Linked DNA regions of Homo sapiens. The protein of the gene in region 1 purifies or fractionates together with the protein of each later gene. This does not show direct contact. Each region holds a gene or a part of one and is shown on either strand. Other genes may lie near its edges. The genes, in order: DAP and MAN2C1.

Region 1 (4,435 bases):
ACTGGACTGGAGGGAGTGACAAGAGATGAGGAGCTCAGCCTCCCTGAACAGTTTTGTTGTCAAAGGGAAAAGTACAGCCAAGCGAGGGGTGGTGTTTCCTTCGCTAAAGAGATTAGGCCTGTCTGAATGCGAATCCAGCAAGGCATTGCGGAAGTTAACAGCAGTTGCAAAACACTGGGGCAGGCGGGAAGAACACGATCCAAGGCACGAGAGCCAGGGGTCAGCCACGGCAACAGGAAGATGATGGTGAAAACCAAAAGTTTCTGAGAGTGGTCTCAATTTAGGAAGTTTATTTTGCCAAGGTTAAGGACGTGCATTGACACAACCTCAGGAGGTTCTGATGACATGTGCCCAGGGTGGCCAGGAAACATCTTGGTTTTATACATTTGAGGGAGACATGAGACATCAATCAATACGTAAGATGTAGGTTGGCTCTTTAGGAGGTAAAATGTGAAGTGGAGGCGTCCGGGTCATAGGTACATTTAAAGGTTTTCTGATTGGCAACTGGTTGAGAGTTATCATCTAAAGACCTGGACTCAGTAGAAGGGAATGTCCGGGTTGCATGAAGGAGTTGTGGAGACCAAGGTGTTATCATGCAGATGAAGCCGGGAATACACTGCAAATGTTTCTTATCAGAGTCCTCTATTAGTCTTAGGGTCTCCGTGCGGATGTTTGTGAGGCCATGTTTGACTTCCGCTTCCCATCAAGGCCTGAACTAGTTTTTCAAGATAACTTAGAAGGCCACAGGCGGAGGGGAGGGTCCATCCGTTGGCTGCAGGGCTTAGAATTTTATTTTTGGTTCATAACGAGGAGGGCAGGGACAGAAGCCACCGTCTCTGCTCCCCAGCGCTGGCCCTCACTCGGAAAGCAGGCTCTCCCCTCGCATCGTCTTTTAACAAATTCCTGCTCTCTCGGCCCCCGTCGCTGCCATCTGGGCTCTCCTTTCCGCGCTTCATTAGGCGCTGCCGCGGCAGGGGCTGAGGGCCTCAGGGGACGGTCGCCTCCCTGCCGGGACGCCCCGGCCCTGGCCCGCACTGTGGGGCGCAGTCACCCAGCCGTCGCCGCGTAGCCAGGAGCCCGGCTGAGCGCGTTCGCTGCAGGAGCCATCCTCAGCTGGGCCCTACTTAACTTTCCGCAACTCCAGTCCCCGCAGCCAGTCGGGGACCCCGCCTCCCTCTCCTTCCTTCTCCCTCTCACTTCTTCACCCCTTCTCTCCCCTCCCTCCTCCGCCCCCGCCCCCGCCCCCGCCCCCGCCCCCGGCCACAGCATCCGACGTGGCGCGGCCGGCTGCGCACGCACCGTATGCTTGGCTCGCGGCCCAGCAGGGCGGGCGGGCCGCGGTGACGTCAGTGCGCATGCCGTCGGTGGGCTCGGCTGCGCCACGTCGGCGCGCGGCGGCCGCGCCCCCTTAACGGCAGTGGCACTCACCCGGCTCGCGCGGCCCCGGCGCCCCACGCGCGCGCGTCGTTCTCCCGCCCGCTCGCTCCCCGGCGCTCACACCTGAGCTCACTCGCGCACGCCCGCCCGGCCCGAGAACCGCGCCGCCGCCTCGGCCCCGCGGAAGCCCCGCCGCGTCATGTCTTCGCCTCCCGAAGGGAAACTAGAGACTAAAGCTGGACACCCGCCCGCCGGTACTGACTCTTTTCCTCTCTCTCCACGCGCGGGTGCCGGGGGCGGGCTCGAACCCGGGGGCGCCGGGCGGGGGCTCCGCGGGGAGGGCCCCGGCGAGCGCTGAGACGGGTTCCGGGCCTTGATGCCCGCCCGAGGGGCGCGGGCCGCGGAGAGGTCGGGCGCCCAGGCCCGGGAGGAGCCCGCCGGAGCTTCGGCCCCGCTTGCCGGCGGCGGCGAAGCGTTTCTTCCTGAGGACCGCGGGCGGCCGCGTACCTGTGCGATTGCGCGCAGGCTCCGGTGCCTTGGGCGAACCCAGTTGCACAACTTATAACAAAGTTTTGGCGGATAATATTTACTTAGAGGATACAGATGTCTAGAAAGAAAGTAGCAGAAGCAATGAAAAGTCAGTGGTGTTAATATCATGGTGATGATTAATTAGAGGCTGCCAGCGTTTCATACCGACTCAAGAACCAAGGAGCGGAAATAATTTTTATCATTAATCACTCAATATGACTTTCACCGCCAGTTTCTTCCACATCCAGATTTTTTTTTTCCCCCAAAGTTGCTTTTTCTGATTTTGAGCAAATCCTAAACTTCTGAGCCAAGGAAGTTAAAGCCAGGAAAGAGCGGTCTTTCTTAGAACATAGGGATCTAAGCAGCCTTCATGCTTCTGCCACCTCCTCCTCTCTCTGGGCACAGTTCCTGTTTGCACTTTGGATTCTGTCCAGACGGGTCTGTTTCCGTTTCTACTCTCCTTTCCAGTGGCAGTCGGCCCATATGGAGGGACACTGGTGAGAAGATCAAAGGCCTTGGGTCTCAGAAGCCAAGTCACTTCAATGTATGGATGCGTGAGGTTCTTTTAGGTCTTAATAGCACGCCTTAGTGTCATAAACTCAGTCTTGTAGGAACAGAAGTCTTTGAGAAACATGGCTTCTTTTGGTGGCACATTTGCGCCATTTTCTTGACAATAAAGATTCCTGGCCAGGCGCGGTGGCTCATGCCTGTAACCCCAGCAGTTTGGGAGGCCAAGGAGGGTGGATCACTTGAGGTCAGGAGTTCAAGACTAGCCTGGATAACATGGTGAAACCCCATCTCTACTAAAAGTAGAAAAATTAGCTGGGCATGGTGGCGGGCGCCTGTAATCCCAGCTATTCAGGAGGCCGAGGCAGGAGAATGGCTTGAACCCGGGAGGCAGAAGTTGTAGTGAGCCAAGATTGAGCCAAAGCACTCCAGCCTTGGCGACAAAGCGAGCGAGACTCCATCTCAAAAAAAAAAAAAAAAAAAAAAAAGATTCCCATTATCCTTCTCTGCTGTCCTCCGCTATAGGGCGGGAATTCTCTGCACCAGCACAATGAATAGGAGCCGTTCTTTAAATATGTTGCAGTCCAGAGTAGGCAATATTTTTCAGTGGTGACGGAGGCTCTCTACAACAAAACTAACTGGCACTGGGAAAGAAAAATGTCTAACTGATGCCAGAGAACTTAAGAGGCATGGGGTTTTAGAAAATCATTCCACTGTGATGGAAAATGGTTTTGGGGGAATTTGTGTTGCATTGGTTTTAAGAAAAAAAGTACTTCAAAGGGAGTTTTTTTTTTGATGGGATTTCTTTTAAGGATAACTGACTTCCATTCCACCACAGCGGGTCCCTGTCCACTGTGGGGAGGAGCGCCTTGATTTCCACCCCGGGCAGGGCTGCCTCCAGGAACTGCAGCAGCCACCTGCTCTGGCCCTCCACTCCCCAGGACATGGGTTACATTAAAGCGTATCTGTTGGAATGATACAGAACCAAAGTACAGTAATTAAATTGCATACAGAGACACACCCATAAAGAAGTTTTTTGTTTTGTTTTTTGAAACAGAGTCTCACTCTGTCACCTGGGAGTGCAGTGGCACGATCTTGGCTCACTGCAACCTCCGCCTTCTAGGTTCAAGAGATTCTCCTGCCTCAGCCTCCCGAGTAGCTGGGTTTACAGGTGCCTGCCACCACACCTGGCTGATTTTTGTATTTTTAGTAGAGACCGGATTTTGCCATGTTGGCCAGGCTGGTCTTGAACTCCTGACTTCAGGTGATCCACCCACCTCAGCCTTCCAAAGTGCCCATATGGAGATTTTTAAGGTCAGAGGTATAAACTGTACATACTCACTCCCTGGGAGAAATTCCTTGCTGGACTCTGGTTTTCTTTGAATTGCAGAGTAAACAGCTAGGCTTTGTGAATTACAGAGTAAGTAGTTTATTTACCCCTGAGGAGGGAAGAGGCAGCTTATTTGTGCTAGTGTAGCAGTGAGCTTGGGTTCTAAGTTTGAAGACATCACTTCACGCTTCACTGGGGCTCAGTTTTTCTCCTTTATGAAATTCGAGGTTTGGGCCTCGGGGCAAGTCACAGGGTGGGGCTGTGTTTGCTGCAGTGAGTCTCACGTCCCGCTTCAGCATCAGGGTACCAGCACTGTTCATCCCCCAGGTAAACTCCTCTAGTAACTTCAGGGCAACCCCTTTAGACTTACGGGGTGAGCTCTTGCGGGTGGCTGTCACCATCTGTCATCTGTCTCCAAGACCATAGTTAGAGGAGGGGCCCAATAGCAGCACCCCTCAAATGCCAGCAGCATCCCTCAAATGCCAACAGCACCCCTCAAATGCCAACAGCACCCCTCAAATGCCAACAGCACCCCTCAGATGCCAACAGCACCCCTCAAATGCGCTTTCCTAGATGTTACAGAGGACCATGTGTGAACCTTTTCTGGCAGGAAGCTCTGGTGTTCTTGTTTAGTCTGGCATTGCCAGAGAGTAGGCAGCTCTGAAGGGTAGATAGTTTTTAAAAAAAAAAAAA
Region 2 (3,801 bases), on another chromosome or scaffold:
GTGTGGAAGCGGACATAGGGGCAGCCAACGTCCAGCACAACCTCCTGGCTAAGCCGACTGTTGGGGCTGATCTGTAGCAAGAACCAGGCGCTGCCCCGCAGGCCGCCCTCGGTGCCCACTGCCAGGGTCCCTGCCTGGCCCAGCACAGGCTTCCTATGGGACAGGGGTGGACATACTGATCCAGAGCAGCCTGTGTTCCCACCACCTCCACCATCCCCACATGCTGCCCAGCCTATACCGTGTCTCCAGGTGGTAGTCCATGACGTCCCATGCATCCCAGTACAAGGGGACATCATCAAATAGCACAAACTGGTTCCCCACGGCGCCCTCAGCAATGGCCTCCCTGGAAGGACATGGGATTGGTGCTGTACAACCAACTGACCTCGCTGTCTCCAGCTGCTCTTGGTGGGGTAGGGTGGAGTGAGTAGACCCAGTGGACAGGGGACTACTGCCCAGCCTGCCCTGCTCCATGTGTGGGTTCCAGCCCAGAGCCACTGGTGGGCTGCTGTGGGCAGTGTTGTGGCAAGGGGAGAGAGGAAATGGCCTGGGGTCTACTTGCCAGGCACTGGGAAAGGGCAATGAGGATTTGGCACCTGCCAGAGGCCACCAGGACCAAGGACGTCAGGCGACCAGTTGGGTCCAGCTTCACTCGGATGATGCCATTGTCCAGAGTCACGGAGCCATCAGTCTTTGTGGGAGGAGGCCTTGAGGCTGAGTCTGTAGGGGCTTCCCACACCAAAAGTCTTCCCACCCCAACCCCAGCCCCGCCTCACCACTTGCTCCAGACAGGGGAGCTCAGGACCCTCAGTTGTAAGAAAGTATCCCAGCACAGTTCCTGCCCCCCAGGGCATGCAGGACTCACCTCTTGCACTACGAACACAGGCTGCTGGGGCAGCAGGGGCTGCAGTGAGGTGGGGGGAGGAACAGGAGCATAGCCCATGCTGGGCACTGTCACCAGGGCTGGGGGTGAGGCCTGGGCATCAGTGCAGCCTTCCTGACCTTTCAGGAAGCTTGCGCAGGTGGGGATGGGTTGGTGGAAGATGTGCTACTACTCTCCAGTCAGGGGCACCCAGATCCCTCGGGGTATCCCAGGCCTGATCTGTCTGGCCTCCATCCTTCCTGCTGCAGTAGCAACCCTTCCCCTCAGCTCGTACCTAGGCTGTGGGCCCCGCCCGGTTTGGGCAGGGCCATCACTTCGATCCGCTTCCAGGGCAGTGTGTTGACGATGAGGAGGCCCTCAGGACCTGGCTCCCCAGCACACAGGGCTGCGGCTGCAGCGCTGAGCAGTGTATTGCCATGGGAACGGATGTCTGAGGAAAGACTGGCTGGTCATAGGTGGGCAACAGGTCTGGAATGTGCCCATGGGTATCCCACAGGGGACACTCTGGGCTCAGCCCTGGGGTTGGAGAGAGCAGGCAGGACTATTGTGAGCCTAACCTTCATAATGGCACATGGCTTCCTCTGCCACCATCTGGATGCAGCTTCCAGTCACCACATCATGGAACTGGTTCAGAAGAAGGAGCCTGCAGGGGCCAAGGGCAGGGATGGGAAGGCTGGGAGGGGCAGGCACAGAGGTAACTGCAGTGAGCAGTCAGGTGGATGGCAGGGACAGAACTGGGCTGACCTCCAGAGGTGCTGCAGCTGGGCTGCTGGGTATAGGAACTGGGCACTGCGGGCCAGGGCCAGGCTACTGAGCAGCTCCACGTCGTGCAGGATCCGCTCACATTCCCGGTTCCCCTTCTTGATCTGAGCCCAGGATGGGAAGATTAGTCTGGAGCCTGCTTAGCTGTCCCAGGACACCTTCCAAAGCCCTCCCTTGCTCAGAATCCCTGAGGACTCACCAAGGGCCTCGTGGAGAAGGCCTCTGGCGGGTGACCTGCCTTAAATGCCTTCCCTCTTCTCCCCGCAGCCCAAACCCTTCTTTCTTCAGGGGTTTCTGCCTCCTTCAAGCTTTCTTGACCAACCCAGGTCTTGAACTTCTCTCCTCCAAACTTCTCTTCCCCTAGATCTGGCCTGGGCTCTGTCCCCTGCTGCCTTCTCTGACCCTCTGCAGATCAAGGGCACACCCTCCCTGCACAGCCCTGCAACCTCCCCCTGACCTGGGCATGGGTGGTGTATGTGCCATTGTGCAGCTCCAAGAAGAGCTCCCCAACCCACGTGCACAGCTGCTCTGAGTCACTCTCCAGTGCTGAGAAGAGCTGTCTTGGAGAAGATAGCTGCACCCTGAGGAGACCACAAGCCTAGGTCTCCCAGCCTTGGAGACCACATGGCTCACCCTTCTTCCACACCAAAGCAAAGGATCCAGCTCCTACAGAGAGGAGCCACTCCAGAAAGCTCCCCGTTCACAGATGGCCAGCCCTGGACGCCCTAGGAGAGCCTCTCTCTCTGATGGGCTGGAGCCCTTACCAGCTTCAGCTTCTCCCCCACCCACCCCCAGGGTGGAAGTTTGGAGGAACCCGTGGTCTAGGATTGGGACAGGACAAGGTCCAGAGGAGGGGTTGGGCCCAATGTCTGAGGGAAGGCAGGGCTCATGGCAAGGGCCCAGGGTGGGGCTAAAGGAGAGCCAAGGCCTGGCCTGACCTGGGCAGCCCATCCGTATTGCTCAGGCGCTTCAGGCGGTCCAGCATGGTCTGGGTGGGGCCACCACCCCCATCCCCAAAGCCAAAGAGGAAGGCACTGTGGTTGGCCCGCCCCTTGTCCCGGTTGTTGGCCACGGTCTTCAGCACCTAGACAGGTGAGGGCAGGCCAGCATGGATCAGCCTGGAACAAGCCAGCCCTCTCCAGCCTGCCCCTACCCCACCACCCTAGGTGACCCCTCACCTCCTCCACGCTGCCCTGCATCCCATAGGAGTCGCCAGGTGGGAAGTGGACCAGTACACGGGAGCCATCCAGGCCCTCCCAGAAAAATGTATGGTGCTACCAGCAGGGAAACAGAAGCAGGGCAGAGAGGCCAGAGTCAGGGCTGAGGCAGAGCCAGGCCTTCCAGACTTGGTCCTGCCCCTGCCTGCTATGTGACCCTGGCAGAGGCAGAGTGAGGGTTTGGTGGTCTGTCTAGGACCCCACAATAAGGGGGAGAGGCAAATGGGCCAGGCGGGACTGAGGCCCACTCTGACCCTGACCCCCCGGGGGCCTGCTTACTGGGAAGGAGTTCACCAAATTCCAGCTCAATTTCTGGGTGAGAAAGCGCCTGATGCCACAGCCGTGCATGATCTGGGGGAGCTGTGCTGAGTAGCCAAAGGTGTCCGGCAGCCAGAACTGTGGAGAAAGAGGATCCTGGAGTGCAGGAACCAGAGCTCCAGGCGGACTCACCCCAGCCTCAGCCCCTCAGCACTCCAAGTCGAGCGCCAGCCCCACTCGCCCACAGCCTGGTGTAGCAGCTCTCAGCCTACCTCAGAGCACATCTTCCCAAACTCCTGCAGAAAGAAGTTCTGGCCCTGCAAAAACTGCCTCACCATGGCCTCTCCACTGGGCAGGTTCCCATCCTGGCAGTGAAGGAAGTGGGAGGCAGCCCAGGTCAGCGCTGGACGGGGAGCAGGCAGGCGCTCAGGCCAACCCAATCCCTGCAGGAGAAGCCAGGGCTGCTCAAACATGGGAGTTACAGCCAGAACTCAGGAAGGGCCCCTGTCCTTCAGGCCTGACTGTCCATCTGCCTGAGGGGGTGCCCAGGACTAGGCCATGCAACTTGTCACAGCGCTGGAGGCTCTCCTCCCCCTTGAAGTCCCAGGCCTTGAGATCCCAGGGACTAATGAGCCAGCCCTGCCACACAGCGGGGATGAGTGGCCCGTGGAAACTCACCAGCAA

Evidence for each region.
Region 2: the proteins of DAP (region 1) and MAN2C1 purify together in Homo sapiens (affinity purification with mass spectrometry; one large-scale study listed by BioGRID and IntAct). This does not show direct contact.

Annotation. Positions count from the first base shown.
Region 1 is NC_000005.10:10,758,210-10,762,644, reverse strand, and holds the start of DAP (death-associated protein 1), read left to right. Parts: upstream 1-1,410; 5' UTR 1,411-1,576; coding exon 1,577-1,631; intron 1,632-4,435. UniProt on the Homo sapiens protein: Ribosome-binding protein involved in ribosome hibernation, a process during which ribosomes are stabilized in an inactive state and preserved from proteasomal degradation.
Region 2 is NC_000015.10:75,358,466-75,362,266, forward strand, and holds part of MAN2C1 (alpha-mannosidase 2C1), read right to left. Parts: intron 3,483-3,801; coding exon 3,390-3,482; intron 3,256-3,389; coding exon 3,139-3,255; intron 2,917-3,138; coding exon 2,821-2,916; intron 2,727-2,820; coding exon 2,581-2,726; intron 2,224-2,580; coding exon 2,100-2,223; intron 1,747-2,099; coding exon 1,625-1,746; intron 1,524-1,624; coding exon 1,438-1,523; intron 1,311-1,437; coding exon 1,155-1,310; intron 974-1,154; coding exon of another isoform or gene 961-973; coding exon 863-960; intron 727-862; coding exon of another isoform or gene 689-726; coding exon 594-688; intron 344-593; coding exon 239-343; intron 154-238; coding exon 1-153. UniProt on the Homo sapiens protein: Cleaves alpha 1,2-, alpha 1,3-, and alpha 1,6-linked mannose residues on cytoplasmic free oligosaccharides generated by N-glycoprotein degradation pathways.